Homo sapiens: one gene and its partner. The protein of the gene in region 1 binds, or shares a complex with, the protein of each later gene. Each region holds a gene or a part of one and is shown in the gene's direction. Other genes may lie near its edges.

The links.
Region 2: the proteins of FIS1 (region 1) and BCAP31 are in contact, whole or in part, in a crystal structure (PDB 8XWX), measured with the Homo sapiens proteins. Residues at the interface, in NP_057152.2 of Homo sapiens: Arg52 (codon at 7,024), Val56 (codon at 7,036), Glu59 (codon at 7,045), Glu60, Pro63, Lys64, Lys89; in NP_001132913.1 of Homo sapiens: Asp224, Leu227, Glu228, Ala231, Lys232, Ala235.

The regions. Positions count from the first base shown.
Region 1 is NC_000007.14:101,239,797-101,251,054, reverse strand, and holds the start of FIS1 (mitochondrial fission 1 protein), read left to right. Parts: upstream 1-5,973; 5' UTR 5,974-6,050; coding exon 6,051-6,095; intron 6,096-6,915; coding exon 6,916-7,048; intron 7,049-10,148; coding exon 10,149-10,225; intron 10,226-10,807; coding exon 10,808-10,913; intron 10,914-11,151; coding exon 11,152-11,249; 3' UTR 11,250-11,258. UniProt on the Homo sapiens protein: Involved in the fragmentation of the mitochondrial network and its perinuclear clustering. Plays a minor role in the recruitment and association of the fission mediator dynamin-related protein 1 (DNM1L) to the mitochondrial surface and mitochondrial fission.
Region 2 is NC_000023.11:153,717,344-153,728,933, reverse strand, and holds the start of BCAP31 (B-cell receptor-associated protein 31), read left to right. Parts: upstream 1-4,546; 5' UTR 4,547-4,600; exon of another isoform or gene 4,601-4,733; intron 4,734-4,806; exon of another isoform or gene 4,807-5,269; coding exon of another isoform or gene 5,270-5,426; intron 5,427-5,645; coding exon of another isoform or gene 5,646-5,689; coding exon 5,690-5,781; intron 5,782-7,961; coding exon 7,962-8,062; intron 8,063-11,590. Other genes in the region: ABCD1 (ATP-binding cassette sub-family D member 1), read right to left, coding at 2,768-3,667. UniProt on the Homo sapiens protein: Functions as a chaperone protein. Is one of the most abundant endoplasmic reticulum (ER) proteins.

The DNA.
Region 1 (11,258 bases):
TTTGTATTTTTAGTAGAGATGGGGTTTCACCATGTTGGCCAGGCTAGTCTGGAACTCCGGACCTCAGGTGATCCGCCCACCTCAGCCTCCCAAAGTGCTGGGATTACAGGCATGAACCACCATGCCCGGCTGGTAGGTTCTTTTTGTAAGATTTTTATGTATTTATTTTTAACTTAGTGTTGGGGTCTCGCTGTGTTGCCCAGGCTGGTCTCGAACTTCTGAGCTCAAGCAATCCTCCCACCTCAGCCTCCTAAACATAGTAGGTTCTTAAATGTTTTGATGGGTGAATGAATTAATTGATAGTTGACAGGACTTTCTAACTGGATAGCAGATGGAACTGGGAAGTAGAGGAGACAGATTACTGAAAATTGGAAGAACGCAAATATGGAATCCTGTTCAGCGGGTGTTTGCTGAGCCCTTCTTGTGCAAAAGGCTGAAGCGGGAAGTGCAAAATAGGCCCCAGCTGCTGGTGTACTCCAGGGAGGGGTCCAGAGCCCAGAATCTGCCCATATACACCAGTTCTAGGTCTTAGTCTCACCAACCTAAGATGTCAGTTTCCTTTCTGCTCACCCACCTGTCTGAATTTGAGAAGTAGATACTTCTTTGTTTTGTTTTGAGTATTACTGTCCACAGGCATAGAATCCATGTGACTGTGACTTTAAGGCTGTATATTATTCCATTATATTGATGTATTATCATTTAATAAAACCATTCCCTGGCATTTTTGTTGTTTGTTTACCTTCACAGATAATGCAGGAATGAATATCTTCATGTCTTCCTTTTCTTCCATTTTTTTTCTTTCATCATTTTCCCAGAGGAGTAATTTTTGTTCTGTTTTGTTTTGTGTTGTTTTCTTTTCTTTTTTTTGAGACAGCGTTTCGCTCTTGTTGCCCAGGCTGGAGTGCAATGGCGCAATCTCGGCTCACCACAACCTCCGCCTCTCAGGTTCAAGTGATTCTTCTGCCTCAGCCTCCCAAGTAGCTGGGATTATACGCATGCACCACCATGCCCGGCTAATTTTGTATCTTTAATAGAGACGGGGTTTCTCCATGTTGGTCAGGCTGGTCTCTAAGTCCCAACCTCAGGTGATCCGCCCGCCTCGGCCTCCCAAAGTGCTGGGATTACAGGCGTGAGCCACTGCGCCTGCCTTGTTTTGTTTTGTTTTGACAGCATCTCGCTCTGTCGCCCAGGCTGGAGTGCAGTGGTGCAATCTCGGCTCACTGCAGCCTCCACCTCCCAGGTTCAAGCGATTTTCCTGCCTCAGCCTCCCGAGTAGCTGAGAGTACAGGCACGTTCCACCTTGCCTGGCTAATGTTTGTATTTTTAGTAGAGACAGGGTTTTACCATATTGGCCAGGCTGGTCTCGAACTCCTGACCTCAAATGATCCACCCATCTCGGCCTCCCAAAGTGCTGGGATTACAGGTGTGAGCTACTGTGCCCAGCCAAGTTAAGGGCTTTTTATGTAAGCTTGATCACGTAGACATGATCGATTATTAACTCAATCTCCAGCTCCTCTCTCTTCCCCAAAGGATGAGGGGGGAGGCTAAAAGTTCAAGCTTAAGAGGCTAAACTTCAAATCCTGGCTTGGTCTTCCTGGTGACCAGCCCTCATCCTGATGCTGTCCAGGAGCCCAGCGAGTCACTTCATTAGAAGAAAAGGCACTCCTGTCACTCAGGATGTTGCAAGGGATTTTGGAGCTCTGTGTAAGATGCTCTTATTGGCCGGGCGCCGTGGCTGACACCTGTAATCCCAGGACTTTGAGAGGCCAAGGCGGGCGGATTGCTTGAGCTCAGGAGTTCCAGACCAGCCTGGGCAACAAAACAGCCTGAACAACATGGCAAAACCCCGTCTCTACAAAAAAATACAAAAATTAGCCGGGTGTAGTGGTGTGTGCCTGTGGTCCCAGCTACTTGGGAGGCCAAGGTGGGAGAATCGCCTGACTTGGGAGGTCGAGGCTGCAGTGAGCCAGGATCCCGCCACTGCAGTCAAAGCTGGGGTCAGAGTGAGACGCTGTCTCCAAAAAAAAAAAAAAAAAGATGCTCTTATTACTTCTATCACTCAGGAAATTACAAGGATTTTAGGACCTTTGTGTTGGGAACCAGGGCAGAGACCAAATATATATATGTGTGTGTATGTATATATGTATATATATATATATATATTTTTTTTTTTTGAGACAGAGTTCGTTCTTATTGCCCCGGCTGGAGTGCAATGGCGCGATCTGTGCTCACCGCAACCTCCACCTCCTGGGTTCTAGCGATTCTCCTGCCTCAGCCTCCTCAATAGCTGAGATTACAGGTGCTTGTCACCACGCCCGGCTAATTTTTATATTTTTAGTAGAGACGGGTTTCACCATGTTGGTCAGGCTGGTCTCGAACTCCCGCCCTCAGGTGATCTGCCCGCCTCGGCCTCCCAAACTGCTGGGATTACAGGCATGAGCCACCGGGCCTGGCCCCAAATATATAGGTCTTATTATGTCACAGTGCTTTTATTTGTTGAGTTATTTTTTTCTGTTTTCCCCATGAAAATGTAAGCTCCACCTTGGCTTACACTGTGCCAGGCTACTATTTGTAGGCAACTAATTGAGCACCTACTACACAGCAGGAGCTCAATTAGTATTTCTTGAATGAATTAAATCATGAGGGAATGAATGAGCCAAATAAGCAATGGAGGAGGAGACAGATGTTCCAAACAGAGAGGACTGCCTGTGTAGCGGAGCTGTGGCCACCAGGGGTTTGAGAGCTGAAGGAAGGCCTATAGGGCCAGTGTACATAGTACATACCAGGAGAGGTAGTGATAGATGAGGAAGAGAATTAAGCATGGCTAGATCCTAACGGACCTTGAAGGCTGTGTTTGTTTTAAGGGCAATGAGAAGGCATGAAAGGGTTTTTTTTTCAGACGGAGTCTCGCTCTGTCACCCATGCTGGAGTGCAGTGGCGTGATCTCGGCTCACTGCAAGCTCCACCTCCCGGGTTCACGCCATTCTCCTGCCTCAGCCTCCCGAGTAGCTGGGACTACAGGCGCCCGCCACCACGCCCGGCTAATTTCTTTTTTGTATTTTTGGTAGAGACGGGGTTTCACCATGTTAGCCAGGATGGTCTCGATCTCCTGACCTCGTGATCTGCCCGCCTCGGCCTCCCAAAGTGCTGGGATTACAGGCGTGAGCCACCGCGCTCAGCCATTGGGTGTAAAATTAACAGGGACTACTTTCTATCACTATGTCGGAGGTGGATGACTATGCTAACTAGACTTGAAAAGCTACAGACTACGGATCTCTTCATTGGCACACAACTGAGCCACCTGAGTAAATCACTCTCCCTTCATCCCTTGTTGACATTCAGCAAATCCTGATGGTGCTTCTGCCATGCACCAGGCCTCTACCAAGGGCTGCAGCAAATATAAACATGACTGTGGTTCAGGCTGCCCCCCAAAAAGGAGCCTCCTAATAGAAGGAGTGCCCCCTTCATCTTCCTGTGTCCCCTGCCCTGCCAGTGTTTGCCTCCCGTCTTCAGTCCTGTTTTCAGTCACCTGCTTCATATCGTGTCCATCTTTTTTATTTTTTATTTTTTTAGAGATGGAGTTTCGCTCTCGTTACCCAGGTTGAAGTGCAGTGATGGGATCTCGGCTCACTGCAGCCTCCACCACCTGGGTTCAAGCGATTCTCCTGCCTCAGCCTCCCAAGTAACTGGGATTACAGGCACCCACCACCATACCCGGCTAATTTTTTTTGTGTGCATATATATATATATATATTTTTTTTTTAATTAAAAAGTAAACTTTAATGTTGAAAATGCAAACTTGGGGAGGGCAGAAAGATCACATACAAGGCTGTCACTTCACACTTGGAAGGTTGCACAGCGGCTGGGCAGAGGTGCATTTTTTGTATTTTTAGTAAAGATGGGATTTCATCATGTTGGCCAGGCTGGTCTCGAACTCCTGACCTCAGGTGATCCACCCGCTTTGGCCTCCCAAACTGCTGGGAATACAGGCGTGAGCCACTGCACTCAGCCCTAGTGTCCTTTGTGCCACCCCAAGGCCCAGGCAAAATTAGGTGCTGTATACTTCTCTGAATGAACATGAAGTTTTCCCCTTGAGGCTTATGCTAGTGGGCAGCCAGTTCCCCAACCTGGGGATTCTCTCAAGGCTTACAGAGCTTACTGTATCAGTCATTTCAACCATCCACGCCAAATAGGGAAGAATAACTCTTGTCTTTCTAACTCACGAGACTATTATGAGGAGAAAAATATTAGAGGCTTGGCTGGGCACGGTGGCTCACGCCTGTAATCCCAGCACTTTGGGAGGCCGAGGCAGTCTGATCACCTGAGGTCAAGAGTTTCAGACCAGCCTAGCTGACATGGTAAAACCCCATCTCTGCTAAAAATACAAAAATTAGCTGGGTGTGATGGCCGGCGCCTGTAATCCCAGCTACTTGGGAGGCTGAAGCAAGAGAATCGCTTGAACCCAGGAGGCGGAGGTTGCAGTGAGCCGAGATTGTGCCACTGCGCTCCAGCCTGGGTGACAGAGCGAGAAACTGTCTCGGAAAAAAAAAACAAAAAACAAAAAACAACCTGGGTGTGGTGGTGCACACCTGTAGTCCCAGCTTCTTGGGAGACTAAGGCAGGAGGATTACAGGAGCTCAGGAGGTCAAGGCTGCAGTAAGCTCTGATTGTGCCGCTGCATGCACTCCAGCCTGGGCCACAGAATGAGACCCTGTCTCTAAAAAATAATAAAAATTAAAGGGGCTTTGCAAACGCGGAAGGTGTCTGGATGATTATCCCCTGCATGTGCAGTGCCTTGTTTACAATTAATTTGCTTTTTCCGTGTTTATTCAACAAATATTTATTGAGCCCTCACTCTCTGCCAAGCCCTGTGCTAGATGCTGGATAAGCAAGGTAAGTCTCTGCCCTCAAGGAACTTACACTCCAATGTGACTCAAGGGGAAAAGAATTTGAAAGTTGCTACTTACCCAGTCCCCTCACTGCACAGAAACTGAAGCCAGAGGTGTCCACACCTTTCTCCTTCCCATGCTCTGATAGCTCCTCACTGCTAAGCTCCCCATTGCCCGTGACCCCATGTGGCAGGTTTCCCGCCTGGGGTGCACTCCCAAAATGGTTTATGTAAATAATATTGAAAATTGGACCTTCTCTGCCAATAATGGGGCCGTTGCTTTTTGAAAAACTTCCCGTTGATAGTGTCTCCTATGACTACCCCTGTGTGGCTGTGTGGTTTACAGATCCAGTTGCCTCTGCTCTTGCATTGTGAGAGTCAGCAGAGGCCCAAGAAACCCCGATACTAGTTTGCTGCTGTTGGTGGGTTTTTTGAGACAAGGTCTCTGTCGCTCAAGCTGGAGTGCAGTGGCGCGATAACTCACTGCAGCCTCGAACTCCCGGACTCAAGCGATCCTCCTGCCTCAGCCGCCCCAGTAGCTGGGAGTACAGGTGCACGCCACCACGCCGGTTGATTTTTTTAAAAATTTTGTAGAGATAGGGTCTCGCTATGTTGCTCAGGCTGGTCTTGAACTCCTGGCCTCCAGCGATCTTCCCGCCGCGGCCTCCCAAGTTGTTGGGCTTCGGACGTGAGCTACGCGCCGGGCTCCCGGTTCTAGTTAAGATTTTGTTGCAGGCGATGAATAGTCACGTGGCCTCCAAGGTCCTAGATTTCTGAGGGGCGTCAGCTTGGCACCCTAATGTACTGTGATCTCTGGTCAGCTACCCACCCTCTTTTTGCTGTTTTCATCCTGGGGGCTAACCGCCAAGACATGGCCTCCAGTTTCCCTAGGGAAGCCTCCACAGAGGAAGGCACCGGCTGAGGCACCTGGGAAGACCAACCTGGGGAAGGTCTCCCTGCGCGCAGTCTGCGGGCTGGAGGGACCGGCCGAGCCTGCGCACTAGCGCCCCGCCGGCGCTGCTGAACTGAGAGGAAGGGGCGGGGCGTCGCCAGGTCGTGCCAGCATCCGCCGGACGCCGGAAGTGGTTCTCCGCCCCTGCCACTGGGCCATGGAGACTGTGGCACAGTAGACTGTAGTGTGAGGCTCGCGGGGGCAGTGGCCATGGAGGCCGTGCTGAACGAGCTGGTGTCTGTGGAGGACCTGCTGGTGAGGCCTGGCCCGGACAGAGGGAAAGGGAAGGTCGGAGGGCGGGTCCTGAGGAGAGTCAGGTAGGGGCCGAACCCTCCTCCCGGCATCGGCTTGGCCGAGGGAAGCCGAACTACGGCTCCCGGCAGCCTCCACAGCGCCTGGCTCCTGCCCGGAGGGCCTGCTATGCCGCAGAGGCTCCTGGGAGTTGTAGTGTCCTGAGCCCCCCACACCTCAGACTACGGGCCTGGAGCCCGACCGTGGTTAGACTGACGGGATCTGGGATCATGCAGGAGCTGTGAGCTCAGGGCGCTCCTCCAGCGGTGGAGGAATACAGTGACCATCATAAGGTGTCACCTATTACTGCGTCCGGCACGGTGCTAAGGCATCGCATGCCAGATCTCAGTCTTTGTAGCTCTAGGAGGTAGGCACTACTTCTATTCCTGGACAATAAAAGGTCCAGGCCCGGCAGGGTGGGGCAGGATGGGGCCAGCAGCCTCAAATGAGGACCGCGTGGGCTGTTGAGCAGTTCTGACAGCGTGTTTACTGTTCGGCCGCCGGGGTCAGCTGCTCCGGGAGCGGTGCCTGGAGCTGCCACCAGGTGGCATCTCCGCTCGGTACCGCCGCGGGGAGGGGAGACCGGGGGCCTCTGTCCCAAGAGCTGGCCCGCAGGCCCGGAGGAGCCGAAAGCCTGGGTCCCGGGCATGGAGATAGCAGAAGCTGGGGTGCCAGATACCGAGACCTGCGAGGGAAAGGGGCAGAGCCAGGGAGATGGCATGTCCAGATAGAGAATGGTTGACGCCCTACATTTCTAAATGATTCCTTTCCTCCCCTGTGGCAGAAGTTTGAAAAGAAATTTCAGTCTGAGAAGGCAGCAGGCTCGGTGTCCAAGAGCACGCAGTTTGAGTACGCCTGGTGCCTGGTGCGGAGCAAGTACAATGATGACATCCGTAAAGGCATCGTGCTGCTCGAGGGTGAGGCGCTGTACTCTCCCTTTCCCGCTGCCATCTGGGCTGCTCTGCGATGTGGGCCCCGTAGTCCAGGCACCTCTGAGTTGTCTCCGGTAGATTTACTGCACCAAGGGCTATACTTAGCTTGACGTCTCCCAGTGAACTTTTGGCTACTTACCGCCCACCATTGTTTTGCCAGACAGAGTGTAGCATGTCAGTTCCCCCAGGACTGTCTTGATCTGGGAAAGTGACTTGAGGTCACCCAACTAATCAGTTAATGGCTGAATTGGGACTAGAAGCTCCTGTTTTGTGAGACCTAGGCCCATGCCCTTCCCCCCAACACCACCACCGTGTTGCTTAGCAGCTATTGAGAATCTTTTGTGGCATGGAAGAGGTACAGAGGACTGTCCTACAAAATTGTGAGCAGATAGTGCTTTTTGTTTTTTGTTTTTGTTTGAGACGGAGTCTTGCTCTGTCCCCCAGGCTGGAGTACAGTGGCGCTGTCTCAGCTCACTGCAACCACCACCTCCCGGTTCAAGCAATTCTCCTGCATCAACATCCTGAGTAGCTGGGATTACAGGTGCCCACTACCACGCCCAGCTAATTTTTGTATTTTTTGTAGAGATAGGGTTTCACCATGTTGGTCAGGCTGGTCTCTAACTCCTGACCTCAGGTGATCTGCCCACCTCGGCCTCCCACAGTGTTGGGATTACAGGTGTGAGCCACCTCGTCCAGCCAGATAGTGCTTTTTGGATGGGAACCCTATTTCCTATTGGTTTTAGGTGGGTCATCATTTGTCAGAGGCCACAATACTTAACCACTTAGTTTCTCTGTAGCTCCTTGTGTTCAAATAATCATTTATAAGCACACAGTCAGTGTACAGCCATCCCTCTGTAGCCATGGGGGATTGGTTCTAGGAACCCCACCCCCACAGATACCAATAGCCACCCAAGTCCCGTATATAAAATCGCATGGTATTTACATGTAACCTGTGCACCTTCTCCCATATACTTTAAATCATCTGTAGATTACTTATAATACCAAATACAATGTAAATGCTGTGTAAATAGTATACTGTATTGTTTAGGGAATAATGGCAAGAAAAAAAGGTCTGTTCATGTTCAATACAGATGCAACTATCTTTTTTTTTTTTCTGAGTATTTTTGATCCATGGTTCGTTGAATCTATGAATACAGAATGCTGACTGTGTTAGCAAAGGATGCCTATTGAAAATCTATAAAAATGGCCAGGCACAGTGGCTCACACCTGTAATCCCAGCACCTTGGGAGGCCAGGGCAGGCGGATCACGAGGTCAGGGGTTCGAGACCAGCCTAATCAACATGGTGAAACCCTGTCTCTACTAAAAATACAAAAATTAGCTGGGCCTGGTGGCGCACACCTTTAATCCCAGCTACGCAGTAGGCTGAGGCAGGAGAATCACTTGAACTCGGGAGACAGAGGTTGCAGTGAGCCAAGATCACGCCATTGCACTCCAGCCTGGGCAACACAGTGAGACTCCGTCTCAAAAAAAAAAAAAAAAAAACTATAAAAATAAGACTCTTTCTTAAAAGATACAAATAATTTTACCCTATGTTTGTCTACTTCGGCAATTCAGATTTTCAGGTTTATTCTACAGCAGGGTGTAGGTGTAGAAGAAACAGCCTCTCTAAGTGTTGCCAGTCTAGTTGAGAAAACAGTACAGACAGGAAGATTTATAAACACCTGCAGAATTATTTAGCAACAAATTCTAGTGCATACAGTACAGTTATCCTCTGGGAAGTCTCTGAATTAAGAAAGTCAGGTGGGGCCAGGCACTGTGGCTCATGCCTGTAATCTCAGCACTTTGGGAGGCCAAGGCCAGAGGATGGCTTGAAGTCAGGAATTTGAGACCACCTGGCCTGTCTGTGTAACAAAGATGTTTAAATTAGCCAGGCATGGTGGTGTGTGCTTATAGTCCCAGCTACTTGGGAGGCTGAGGCAGGAGGATCACTGACCCCAGGAGTTTGAGGCTGCAGTGAGCCATGGACATGCTACTGTGCTCCAGACTGGAGTGACAGAGCGAGACCCTGTCTCCGTTTTTTGTTTTTTTTTTCCCGAGACTGAGTGTGCAATGGTGCAATCTTGGCTCACCGCAACCTCTGCCTACCGCATTCAAGCAATTCTGCTGCCCCAGCCTCCCGAACAGCTGGGATTACAGGCATGTGCCAACACGCCCGGCTAATTTTGTATTTTTAGTAGAGACGGGGTTTCTCCATGTTGGTCAGGCTGGTCTCAAACTCCCGACCTCAGGTGATCCGCCCGGCTCAGCTTCCCAAAGTGCTGGGATTATAGTCATGAGCTACGGCTCACGGCCCACCCTGTCTCTTTAAAAAAAAAAAAAAAAAAAAAAAAAAGGAAGGAAGACAAAGTCAGGTGGGGTCTTCGGGGAAGGCTGATTGAAGGTGAGTTTTGAGCTGATTTTTTTAAAGGGGGAGGGAGTCCTAACTTTTTTTTTTTTAAACAATAATTGTACAGCAGGCAGTTTAGTTAAAACCACAACGGCAGCACTTTGGGAGGCCAGGGCAGGCAGATCACTTGAGGTCAGGAGTTTGAGACCAGCCTGGCCAACATGGTGAAACTCCATCTCTACTGAAAATACAAAAATTAGCCAGGCGTGGTGGCGGGCACCTGTAATTCCAGCTGCTCGGGAAACCGAGGCAGGAGAATCGCTTGAACCCAGGAGGCGAAGGTTGCAGTGAGCCGAGATCACGCCATTGCACCGCAGCCTGGGCGACGAGTGAAACTCCGTCTGAAAAAAAATACCACAGCAGATGCCAAAACTGAGTCACGCTGCCTTTGGCTTCTCCAGGGCCCCGATTTCCTCATTTCAGTTGGATGGACCAGTTGACTGTAATACTGATAAAAGGCATGTTCTGTCACTGGGGTGTTGGCACAGCTGGGGTTCACCCTGTCCCAGAGCTCTGGCTAGGGTGCTGGGAGTGACTGGAGCTGAAAGGGAGGCTTAGGACTGTGACCCTCCCAGGATCACAGAGGCATTCAGAGAGTGGAAGGGGCCTCTGGGACACAGTATTAGGAAAGTATTAGGAAAGAAGCATTTCTCACCCTCTTCTCTGCCCCTCCCCAGAGCTGCTGCCCAAAGGGAGCAAGGAGGAACAGCGGGATTACGTCTTCTACCTGGCCGTGGGGAACTACCGGCTCAAGGTGAGGTGGGGACCCCGTTCCCTTCACCCTCCTCTGGGGCTGCAGGACCTTCTTACTGTGTCCTCCAGGGTGGAGCCCTGGACAGCGGGAAGGCTGAAGGGGTGCAGAGGTGCAGAGCGGTGTCAGATGAGGACTCCGAGGGAAGATCAGAGTGGCGAGGGGGTGGGGAGGAAGGTGACGTCAAGAGACTGGGTGCAGGCCCAAGCCTTGCGCTGTTATCTCCCGCAGAGTTGGGGTTGTTTGTGGACTCTACTCCGTGGGGTGGGGCTGGAGGGAGGGAGTGGGTGGAGGTCGAGGGAGGAGCCCCCAGGGCTGAAGAAGGGAAGGCCCTTCACGTGGGCAGGGGGAGTGGTGGATACTGAGGTGTAGCCGGCCCAGTGGCTCACGCCTGTAATCCCGGCTACTCAGGAGGCTGAGGCGGGAGGACTGCTTGAGCCTGGGAGTTTGAGGTTGCAGTGGGCTGTGATTGCGACGCTGCCGTCCAGCGTGGGCAACAGAGCAAGACCCCGTCTCTTATTAAAAAACAAACAAACAAAAAAACACTGCGGTGTGTATGACGCGTGCGCGTTTCCCCGAGCGCAGGAATACGAGAAGGCCTTAAAGTACGTCCGCGGGTTGCTGCAGACAGAGCCCCAGAACAACCAGGCCAAGGAACTGGAGCGGCTCATTGACAAGGCCATGAAGAAAGGTGACAGCCTCGGCCCCTTTGTTCAGCCCCGCTCTTCCCCACGCCTGGGCACTTTGGTCTCTCTGTAAATGAACCCCTCCAGGCAGCCCCTCAGCCCCACCCCTTCCAGTTCTTAGAGCCCCTTGCCCTGCGACTCCAGGTAGGGGTGTGCCTCTGTTGAGGGGCAGGGCTGGCGGAAGGGGACGGTCAGGGTTTCCGCAGGGGCCGGGCTCCTGACACTGTCCCTTTCCTTCCCCAGATGGACTCGTGGGCATGGCCATCGTGGGAGGCATGGCCCTGGGTGTGGCGGGACTGGCCGGACTCATCGGACTTGCTGTGTCCAAGTCCAAATCCTGAAGGAGACGC
Region 2 (11,590 bases), on another chromosome or scaffold:
CCTCCTGGCTCGGAGAGATCATCCATCAGCTCTAATTTCCCCCCCTAAACTAAGCAAAGAGCAGCGCAGGACAGCAAAAGGCAGTGCTCTTGGGCTGAGTGCAGTAGCTCACACCTGCAATCCCAGCACTTTGAGAGGCTGAGGTGGGAGGATTGCCTGAGCCCAGGAGTTGGAGACCAGCCTGGCCAACACGGCGAGATGCTGTCTCTACCAAAAATAATTAAAAAAAAAAATTAGCCAGGTGTGGTGGCACACACCTGTAGTCCCAGCTACTCGGGAGGCTGAGGTGGGAGGATCGCGGGAGCCCTGGAGTTTGAAGCTGCAGTGATGGCGCCACTGCACCCCAGCCTGGGCAGCACAGTGAAACCCTGTCTCTTGGTTCTGAAAAACTCGGTTCAACAGTCTGGGCCTATTTACGCCCTCTTTCCCCTCAACTTTCCCACACTTCCTTTTGGTGAGAAATTTGCATGGCATTTTCCCACTGAAACCAGGAGGATGCGCTCCTGAGCTGGGCCCTACAGGACTCGCCCCAGTGGATGTCCCCACTGCTGAGCCTGGACCTTGCTCCCTCAGCAGTGGGTAGGCCTCCCCTGTCCTTCTGTCCCCCTTCCTGCACTGGCCACCACTATGTCAGGACACCAGCAGGTGGGGAAAGGGACAGCCGCAGGGAAGAGGTGGCAGCAGCAGTCAGACAGGCGGGGGAGATGGGAGGTGTTGGGAAGTGCTCCCAGCAAGGTAGCCAAGGGGTTGTGAATTTCTGGGCTCAGTCCAGGGGCACGCACCCCAGCCTTGCCTCCCCACAGCCGTCTGATGACAGCTGCCTAGCCTGCCACTGTTTGCCAAGTGCTTTCACGTCTCTGCATTTGATTCTCCCCACATCCCACTGCATGTGTATTCACGTGCCCACTGTACACAGAACACTGAAGCCCAGGGAGGCAAAGTGACCTGCCCAAGCCCATACAGCCTGATGGTGGCAACCAGTGTGGGAATTTGGACCACACTGGCAGAGCTGCCAGAAGAACCACATTCTTGTAAATGATGCTTAGACTTATCAAGAGAGCTTTACTTTGTTCTCAAACAAGAGATCGTGTGCATGTGCGTTTCAATAAGCCTCCTCGCGGCAATCCCAGAAAGGACAGAATACTCTGCTATGTGCCCTCCAGCCAGTCAGCTGCTTCTGCCCTGATCTGAGCCTAGGCCAGTGTCCACGGGGACATCAGCCAGTGGGACTGCCATGGGCCACATGCTACCCGAGGGTCCTCTCACCCCACACAGCTTTCCAGCCGAGGCCTATGCAGACAGGCCGTGAATGCACACCGGGCCCTCCTGCCCTGGCCAACAAACCCTCTTGGCCAACGTGCTACTTCCTGAAGCTAGCCCTTCAAAGAACCAGTAATCTCTCTACTTCCTGAAGCTAGCCCGGACGAAGGCCTTCAAAGAACCAGTGATCTCTCTTCTGCCCCCGCCACCCAGGTCGGCCTGCACAGCTGAGCTCCCTGCAAGCCCGATCTCCCATTCCTGAAGCAAGCACCCTGGCAATCCAGACTCGTGCTGGGAGCTGGCAGGGGTGCCAGCCAAGGCTGACAATGTAGCTGCGGGGAATGTGCCAAGCGCCTCGCCCAAGGCTGCAGCTGCTTGCCAAGGCCCTGCAGCCCAGCATGCGGGAGAAGAGGAGAGGGAAGCCAGGGTGGTGGCTGAAGTCCAGGGGCCTTTTCTCTGAATCTGCAGTCTGGCCCACACCCGGGATGCCCCTCTCCGTGGAATTCGGGGACAAGCCTGCTTCTCTGCTGGTGCACAGCCAGTGAGACAAGGTCCCAGGGCAAGAGGCCACCTGACCCAGGGAGCACACACAGGCCTTCGGGGGATGGATGCCATTGTGCCCCTCCTCCCAAGAAGCACTGGGGAACCGAAACTGAGTCGCAGAGAGCAGGGCCCAAGGCAGCTGCAACCCCAGGCACGAGGAAGGGGAGGGGCTGAGGCGAGATAAAGGGAGCATTGACCTGGAGTAACCTTTCCCAGCGCCTGTCTGGCCCGCCGGCCCCGGCCCACCAGGGAGCCAGGAGACAGACAGGGTTGGAAGGACAGCCACGCCAGGAGCAGGAAGTGTGTCCCGCCGCAGTGGCGGCCTGGGCCCGGCATCTCTGGTCTGGGGGCCCGGGAAGGCAGCTGAGCCAGTTGGTAGCCAGGCAGGCCTGTGGGCTCAGGCGGGGGTGGCCTTGACCCCAAGTCCCACTGCTGTGCTGGGCGCTGCTCATTAACCTCCGCTTGGGCTGAGTCATGCCCATAATGCCGGCCTGCCTGGCCAGCCAGCTCTGCTGGACGCCGGCCTTCAAAGGGCCCAAGGGCCCAGGAGGGGCTAGGCAGCAGGCTGCGTCCCTCGGTCCCCGCTCATGAATGGCAGGCGTCTCCTCCTGGCTGGCTGCAGGAGTGGGGCGGGCAGGAGCTCTCGAGGCTCAAACCGCTAGGATCGCAGCTCTAAGGCCAGGACAACCTCCTTGAGGAGGAGAGGAAGCAGAAGTGGCCTCGAGCGTGCAGGCAACCAGCACAGGACAGTCCCCACCCAGCCTTCCTGCCTCTCCACTGCCGCGCCTGAGTCCACGGCTGCCCAAAGGCCCTGCCCACCCCAGCCCGGCTCTCCCATGGCCTGCCCACACCTTTGGCATCAGCCCCGGCCCGCCCCAGACTGTCCCCACCGCTCACGGCTGCCTGCCCCCGGGCCTCCCTGCCACACGCTTCCCTCCGTGCCCGGCACCCCAACCTGCCCCACCTCATGGCCCCCATAGAAGGCGATCTCCTCCGAGTTGGCCACCACACGCGAGTGCATGTAGCGCAGCTCCCCCTTCCGCCGCGCCTCCTCTGCCACCAGCTCCCCGAACTTGGGCGAGAAGGCCCGCAGCACGTTGGCCGTGAGGAACACCACGAGGCCGGCGATGGCCGAGGGCCAGGCTGTGCCGGCTCCACGGGAGCGGGCCGCCCGAAGCAGGGTGTAGGAAGTCACAGCCACGTCCAGGAGTGGCTTGGTCAGGTTGGAGTAGAGGTGGGCCACAGAGGCCGCAAAGGCCACCACGTCCTCCGTCAGAGACTGGTCAGGGTTGCGAAGCCGCCCGTCCATGTTGCTGACCCGGTAGTAGGTCTGCTGGGAGAAGTAGAGGCGGTAGGCGTGGGCCACCAGACGGCTGCGGAACGACAGGGCCAGTTGGCCCTCCAGGTAACGGATGGCACTGTTGACGAAGGTAGCAGGGAGGGCGATGAGGAGCCACTGCAGCAGCTGCCAGCCAAAAGCCCGCGGGTCCTTGCGGACGATGCAGCGGGCCAGCCTTCCGTCCAGGCGGGCCACATACACCGACAGGAAGGTGCGGCTCACCAAGGCGGCCGAGTGCAGGGCCAGCAGCCCCGTCTCCCGGCACAGGACCCGGGGGAACAGCAGCCGCAGGAGCCACAGGAGCCGCTGCAGGAATACCCGGTTCATGCCAGCTTTGGCCGCCGCGACCCCGGAGGCCTCCTGCGTGGGCTCCCCGGCGGGCGCCTGAAGACCCCTGGCCGGGGCCAGGCACTGGCGCACCAAGGGGTAGACTTTGTGGGCTCCATAGGCCGCGAGGGCCAGGAGCACGGCCGTGCGCTTCAGCGTGTTCCCCCGCCAGGGCCGGGGCCTGGAGAGCACCGGCATGTCACCTGGGCTGGCTGCCGCGTAGGGACTGGGGCTGGTGCCTGGGGCAGCAGTTGAGGCAGGTGGCTGGAAGGATTGTTGCTCTGACCCTGGGCCTGTTGTCTAGGCAACTGGAAACCTTGCGATGGCCCCTGAGACTGTCGCTTTAGGCCCCCGGGGTGGTGCTGGGGCCCCTGGTGCGGTGGGCTCAGGGCCCTCCAGGGTCGCGGCCTCTTCGGGCAGCCCAAGTGGAGGAACTTGGCTCTCCTGTCCTGTCAGTGCCCTGGCCCCTGAGGTCAGGGCCTTGAGAGGTCTCGGGCAGAGGGGGCGTCTCTTCCTCTCCACCTTCTCCTCCTCCTCCTCCCCCGGTGGCGCCCCTCCCCGGGGCACCAGGCGCGTCCGTCCGCTCCGCAGCCTGGCTGAAGCGACAGTGACTCCTCCACCGGCCCAGAATCCCCACCCACTCTTCCCCAGGGGCGAGTCGGGGGAAGGGGAGGAGGCGGAGGAGGGGCGAGGGGCGGAGTCCGGGCGCGGGAGCCCCACCCTGTTCTCGCCCCTCGGCGGGGCCCGCCCACACCCCCACCTCCCGTTCTCGCCCCTCGGCGGGGCCCCTCCCGCACCACAGAGACGTGGGACGGCCGCGCGGACTAGAGAAGCGGCCCTCGCCGGCCCGACAAAGCCCCGCCCCGCCCCGCCCGCGTGCTCGCTCCACCCCGCCCTGCTCGCCCGGAGCCCGAGGCGCCTCTTCCTCTCCCGCTCGGAGCGCCGGCCCTCCGCTCCGGGGCGGGGTGGGAAGCGGAGGTGGGCGGAGCCTCCGGGGCCTCGCGAGGGCTGGTGGGCGGTGCCCGGCGGGCGCTTCCGGTTTCCGGCCGCGGTATGAGGGGCGGGGCCGGGGCTGCTGTGGGAGAGTTCTGTTGCTGCGGCGGGGCCTGCACGTTGACTGTGGGAAACTCGGTGAGCGGGCTCCGCGCGCCGGGCTGGGCTCCGGGACCGCGGAGGCTCCCCGGCCCATCGACGAGGGAGAGAGGCGAGCGGCGCGGGGAGGCCCGGGGGCCGGGGAATCTCGGGGCCCGCAGCCTACCTGCGTGTGAGAGGCAGGGGCGAGGGGAAACCGGGCGGCGCCTCTAGAAGCTGGTCTCGGGGGCGGGGCGGGGGGCGGTGAAGCCCCACCTGGAGGAGCGGCCGGGATGGGCCTCCGGGACGGTGTGCCAGGCCGGGGCCAAGTCGGAGGCCCCTCGCTCTGGGTGGGCGCTGGGGCCCGCGAGGGCTACTGTAAGGACCCCTGGCTTCTGAGGATACTGCGTCTAGAACTTTCTCCGTATGGGGCCTTGAGGTGCTTGGTCGAGACCTGCCTTTGCGCTTGGTCCCGAATCCTGCCCTCTAGGAGTCGCTCTTGCGGGCCTCCAGCCCACCGGAGGCGAAGCGGCCCCGGGCGGAAGGCCGCTGGATCCTCGAGGGAGGTGCCGGTTTCTCTCCGCGGGCGCCGTGGGGACGGTGGGAGGCGGGGGCGTCGGCAGCGCTTGGACTAGGTGCGGCCTTGGGCCTGCCTGGTAGCGGGGATTTGGGCCCGCAGAGCGCCCGCCTCTGCGGCTGAGTTCTGCCTGGCGGGGAAGGGAGCGCCCGATGGGTGCCGAGGCGTCCTCCTCTTGGTGCCCTGGCACTGCTCTTCCCGAAGAACGCCTTTCAGTTAAACGGGCGTCGGAAATCTCGGGCTTCCTGGGGCAGGGATCGTCGGGAGAGGCCGCTCTGGACGTGTTGACACACGTGCTGGAGGGGGCAGGTAATTGACCAGCGAACGGAAGTTTGTGGGGCCTGTGAACGCTGCTGGCCAAGAGGCCCTGCCGAGTGGAGCCCTGCTTCCGCCAGCGCATCAGAGACTTTGAAGCAAAGTGCAGGGGGTCAGGGTGGAGAGTGGCGGCCCCAGCCTCGCAGGGTAACTGAACTGGATGTTCTTGGCTGCCCAGCGCTTACAAGTCCCGTACCTTTTGTGCCCTGCCAGGAAACAAGCTCACATCTTCCTGTGGGAAACCTTCTAGCAACAGGATGAGTCTGCAGTGGACTGCAGTTGCCACCTTCCTCTATGCGGAGGTCTTTGTTGTGTTGCTTCTCTGCATTCCCTTCATTTCTCCTAAAAGGTATGGCCTATGGAGCAAGCAGGCGAGTTAGGCAGGAGGGTGCCTGTGCCCTAGCCCTGGGACTGGTGTGTGCAGCTGGTGGACCCTGGAATTGGGACCCGATGGAACAGGTAGAACCTGTCTGGGGTGGGGGTGGCAGGGGTTGTGTTTGTTATTGCCAACCCTTCCCAGGGTTCTGCTTCGTCATGACTTGCTCAGTTCCTTTTCCTGTGTCCCCTGCCTTCTGGTCTTCAGAATGCCCCCGAGAGGCAGGAAGATCTATGTTACAGTTCTGGAAATGATGCCCTCCCACCCACTCTTGGTCCACGGGGTGCTGGGATGGTAGCGTGGGATTCGGAAGACTTGCACCACTGGGTCACGTTGTTGCTGATTTGGTGACTCTTGTCCTCCTAACTAGTCTCACTGGTATTGCGCAGTGGCTGCATGAACATTACTCAGCCTGTGGAGGATGAAGCCATATTCCCTTTTAATGAACAGAGGACCTGTTAAAAGTGAATTGGAGATTAATTTTAATTATGTATAATACCTGAACACATCCCTATTTAAATTACGATATTACAAATAAGGCCAAATCTCCACAGGTATTTTTAAAAGCCGTTTTTTCGTGAAAAATTATCTTTGATGTGATACCATAGAAAGTATGCAGTGCTGTCTGAGGAGGATTCTTGTAGAAAACCACACCTTCGTACAGTTGACAAGACGTGCAGAGATAGAGGGCCCCGGGGAGCTTTAATCTGGGAAGCTTTAGAGGACAGACAATCTGATTTCTACACAAAGGAAACTGGAAAAGCAAATGAAAGAGGGAGAGGGAAGGGGGAGCTTCCAGAATAAGCTGGATTTAAGACGTTTATCTACCGAATGCCAAATCGGTACCTTGTTGGGTCCGGATTCAAACAAATATCATTGCCTTCAGTGATTGGCATATTCAACTCTAGCCCTGATGATGAGGGCTTCTTGTTGATTTGAACAATATGTAAACACTTCTGAAGTCTCTTCTTAGAGCTGCATCCCAAAGCATTTGTGGATGGAAATGATGTGAGGTCTGGGGTCCATCTCATCATAACAGGGTCGGGGGATATAGACAAACCAAGGTTTATCATGTGGAAAGACAGTTTAAAGAAATAACGTGTATGGGGCAAACATTTGAATATTACAAAGGGGAGTACAATGAAAAGTAAGTTTCCCTTTTCAGAGACTACCAGTATGTTTTCTTTTTGTTGTTGTGGTTTTTTTGTTTGTTTTTGTTTTTATTTTGAGACAGAGTCTTGCTCTGTCACCCAGGCTGGAGTGCAGTGGTGTGGTGCTCGGCTGACAGCAGCCTCCACCTCCCGGGTTCAAGCAATTCTCCTGCCTCAGCCTCACGAGTAGCTGGGACTACAGGTGCCTGCCAACATGCCCAGCTAATTTTTTTTTATATATATATTTTTAGTAGAGATGGGAGTTCACCATGTTGGCCAGGCCGGTCTTGAACTTCTGACCTCAGGTGATCTGCCCATCTCAGCCTCCCAAAGTGCTGGGTTTACAGACGTGAGCCAGTGCGCCCAGCCAACTGCCCACGTTTAAGATTAGTTTTCCAGGCTGGGCGCGGTGGCTTACACCTCTGCACTCCAGCCTGGGCAACAGAGCAAGACTCTGTCTCAAAAAAAAAAAAAAAAGATTAGTTTTCCAGACATTTTGATCTATACGTGGACCAGCATCTTTTTTTTTTTTTTTTTTTGAGACAAGGTCTCGCTCTGTCACCCAGGCTGGAGTGCAGTGGCGCGATCTCGGCTCACTGCAACTTCCGCCTCCCAGGTTCAAGTGATTCTCCTGCCTCACCCTCCTGAGTAGCTGGGATTACAGGTGCCCACCACCACGCCTGGCTAATTTTCGTACTTTTAGTAGAGACAGGGTTTCGCCATGTTGGCCAGTTTGGTCTTGCACTCCTGACCTCAAGTGATCCACCCACCTTGGTCTCCCAAAGTGCTGAGATTACAGGTGTGAGCCATTGCACCTGGCCTTTTTTCCAATAGTCTTGAATGGATGTCAAATTAGAGAATTGCAAGCCACTGAGGCTGACTTTGCATGGGCTATTCGGCCATTGGAGAAGAGTACAAAGCTGGATTTCCATTTTGCTCAGGGCCCTAGAGCTCGTGTGTGTGCTTTCTCTTCAACTCCTGTCCTTTTTGTCTTCTTCACAGATGGCAGAAGATTTTCAAGTCCCGGCTGGTGGAGTTGTTAGTGTCCTATGGCAACACCTTCTTTGTGGTTCTCATTGTCATCCTTGTGCTGTTGGTCATCGGTGAGTGAGCTATGGCTGAGGGCAGCTACCTGACCTAGACCCTGGTCTCTGCTGCAAAACCCTTTGCCACTTTTGATGTGTAGCATCCAGTTTTGGCTGCTAGGAGACAGACCAATGAAATGCTGTGTCTTTCTCTTGAGGGAGGGAAGAGGCTCCCTTTGCCCATGCTGCTGACCGCTAGTCGGTTCTTCACTTTGAGGCCCCTCTAGGCCGTACATGGTGGCTCATGCCTGTAATCCCAGCACTTTGGGAGGCTGAGGTCGGTGGATCACCTGAGATGAGGAGTTCGAGATCAGCCTGGCCAACGTGGTGAAACCCCATCTCTACGAAAAATACAAAATTAGCTGGGCGTGGTGGCGGGCACCTGTAATCCCAGCTACTTGGGAGACTGAGGCAGGAGAATTGCTTGAACCCACGAGGCAGAGGTTGCAGTGAGCCTAAATCGCACCATTGCACTCCAGCCTGGGCAACAAGAGGGAGACTCCATCTCAAAAAAAAAAAAAAGAGGCCCCTCTAGCAGTGGGCGTGGGCTTATACCAAGCAGTTTGTATGCAGCTTATGACGGCCACCTTACATTGCTTTTTTTCAAGACCTTGGAAGGAGGGACGCCTAAGGTTTCTGAGGCTGCTCCTCAGGTCACTCTAGAACTGAAGCCAAGAGAAGCTAACTGGCCTGTGACCTTGGTCTGAGTAGTGCTGCTCACCAGTCACTTAAACAGCAGAATTGCCTGGAGCAGGGCCTCTAATGGGGGACTGAGCAACCAAGCACACAGTGAAGTCCTGCCATTCCCTGTAGTAGTAGGAGGAGAACACAGAGATGTGTGGCAGCATATCTTGGGGAGAGATCCTAGACCTCTCTGCATCTGGGCTAGACTTGAGGTTTTCCCAGGTCGTTCCAGCTCTGTAGTTCTGTAAACTCTGACATTGAGGTGTACACTAGCAGGTGCTTGAAAGATAAACTGGTCCAAGGGCAAGCAGGCTCTGGGATAAGGCCAGGCCAGGTGGTGGTAAGATGAAAGGCAGACATTTTGCAATGAGGTGGTAGGGTGACCATCTGGAGACAAGAATCAATAAAGCTCTTGTCTGACTGGTAGATGTTTGTTGTTTTGCTGTGGTAAGTGATCGATATGTCCCCCTGTTTGGGCTCCAAAGTATTGGCTTGGCTCTGCTGTGGACACCACTCTTGTCTCAGAGCTGTGGTGCCTGCCTAGGCGTGGAACACTCCTCCCACCGAGTCCCAGCAGAAACACTGAGCGGGTGGGGGGCTGTGGTTCAGGGGAATGTGCAAAGCCTCACCCACCAGCTTCAGCATTAGGCATTTCTCCTTCCTGATGTCTCAGAGCCTGATAGGATATGTTCAGGCTGGACTGCCTCTGAACAGGCCAAGTGTTACCTGACAGCTTCCAACCACATAGGGTAGGTGCCAGCTGCCTGAGCACCTCAGTGTTCTTGAAATACTTGGCAAGGCCCCAAGAGGTAGTAGCTCTTTCTAACCAGGGTTCTCGCCCTGAGCAGCCTCCAAGCCAGGAGTAGGTAGGTAATATATGTGTCATCCCCAGGCCACTGAGTTTTTGAACTGAGCATGTGTGTTTTGGCTTTTGGGTCTGGGGTGGGGGTAATAACTGGGGAGGGGAGGGACCATGCTGAGGATGATTCCCTCAGGGTCTTGCCCCTTCCCCAAACCAGAAGGAGTATGTTTCTTTCCTAGAGCAGCTGAGTGGGCTGGAGAGATCCTTTGCGGAATCCAGTAGTTGACAAAGCCTTCATTCTTTTTTGGGATCGGGGAACTGCTTGGAAGTTCTAGGGGGACATATGGCCATGATGACTGGCTGCTTCCTACTCCCATGTTAAGAAGCATAATCTAGAAAGATCTGCAGAGCCTTCTTCAAACAGAAGTGTTAGTCACAGGTACTAGTGAAGGGTAAGGGGCATAACTAGCTAGAGCTGTGGCCTTGCTTGGGGGTGGGGAGGGTTGAGCAGATCCTCCTGGAGGATGGAGTTGCTGAGGGTGCAGGATCTTCCCACCTGGGCTGAGGCCCGAGACAGGGAGGGCTGGTTTCTACTGTGGGACTTGGGTTAGTATTGCTCAGTCCCCCATCCCCACTATTGGTCATTGGCCAAGGTGGTCCTTAGGATGGTGGGGTTCCTGGATGCAGGTGACAGTGTAAGGAAACATGTTTATCTTGTTTTTCTGATTACAAAAATAATGGGTAATTATTCTTAAAAATTCAAAAGTTGAATTTAGAAAGTTAAACTCCCCATAATCCCATTTCCCACAGGTAACCATCATGAGTATTTTGTTGTGCATTTCCAGAGGGGTTTTGTATGCTGACATCTTTAATAAAATGTCTACAACGGTGGGATCATACACACAAAGTATTTATGTTTCTTTCCACATTCCTGCTGGGACATGGCAGGAGGAGCATTCCACGCCTGAGCTGGTAGCACAGCTCTGAGATAAGACTGCTGTCCATAGCAGAGCCTAGCCAATACTTTGGATTGTGCTTTTTCTACCTGCTGCACGTTAGACATCTTTTTTTTTTTTTTTTTTTTTTGAGATGGAATCTCACTTTGTTGCCCAGACTGCAGTGCAGTGGCGCCATCTTGGCTCACTGCAACCTCCGCCTCCCAGGTTCAAGCGATTTCCCCTGCCTCAGCTTCCGAGTAGCTGCAGGTTACAGGCGCCCGCCACCATGCCCGGCTAATTTTTTGTATTTTTAGTAGAGACGAGGTTTCACCGTGTTGGCCAGGCTGGTCTTGAACTCCTGGCCTCAAGTGATCCGCCCACCTCGGCCTCCCAAAGTGCTGAAATTACAGGCATGAGCCACTGTGTCCGGCCAACATCTTTTTATAGCAATCTCATTCTTCTTAAAGATCATGTAGTATTCTCTCATGTGGTTGTGCCGTAATCCATTCTTTATAAGCATCTTCGAATCATTGCAAATTTATGCAAATACTTCTGTGGGATAATTTCAGAGGTGAATTGTTGAACCCGAGGGTATGAACATTTTGCATTTTATACAGGTGTGCTGTTTTTACCCCTGCTAACAGCGTTTGAGAGTACTCGCTTCGTGGTGCTGAGGGATGGGCAGATTTTTATAATGCAAGATCAACATAAAAACTAAGCAGCCTAAAACCGGAAATTAAGAACCCCATGAGGCCAGTGCCCTGACTCACGCCTGTAATCCCCACACTTTGTGAGGCTGAGGCAGTTGCTTGCGCTCAGGAGTTTGAAACTAGCCTGGGCAACATGGCGAAACCCCGTCTCTACCAAAAATAGAAAAAGAAAAAATTAACTGAGTGTGGTAGCACACACTTGTGGTCCCAGTTACTGGGGAGGCTGAGAGGTGGAGGTTGCAGTGAGCTGGGATCGTGCCACTGCACTCAAGCCTGGGTGACAGAGTGAGACCCTGTAACCCACCATACAAAAAGAACCTCGATACCCATACAGTGATACCTTGCTCCTCTCATATGGGAGTCTATTAAGAGCATTCTTTGGGTACATCTTAGTGTATTGACTTAAAACGAT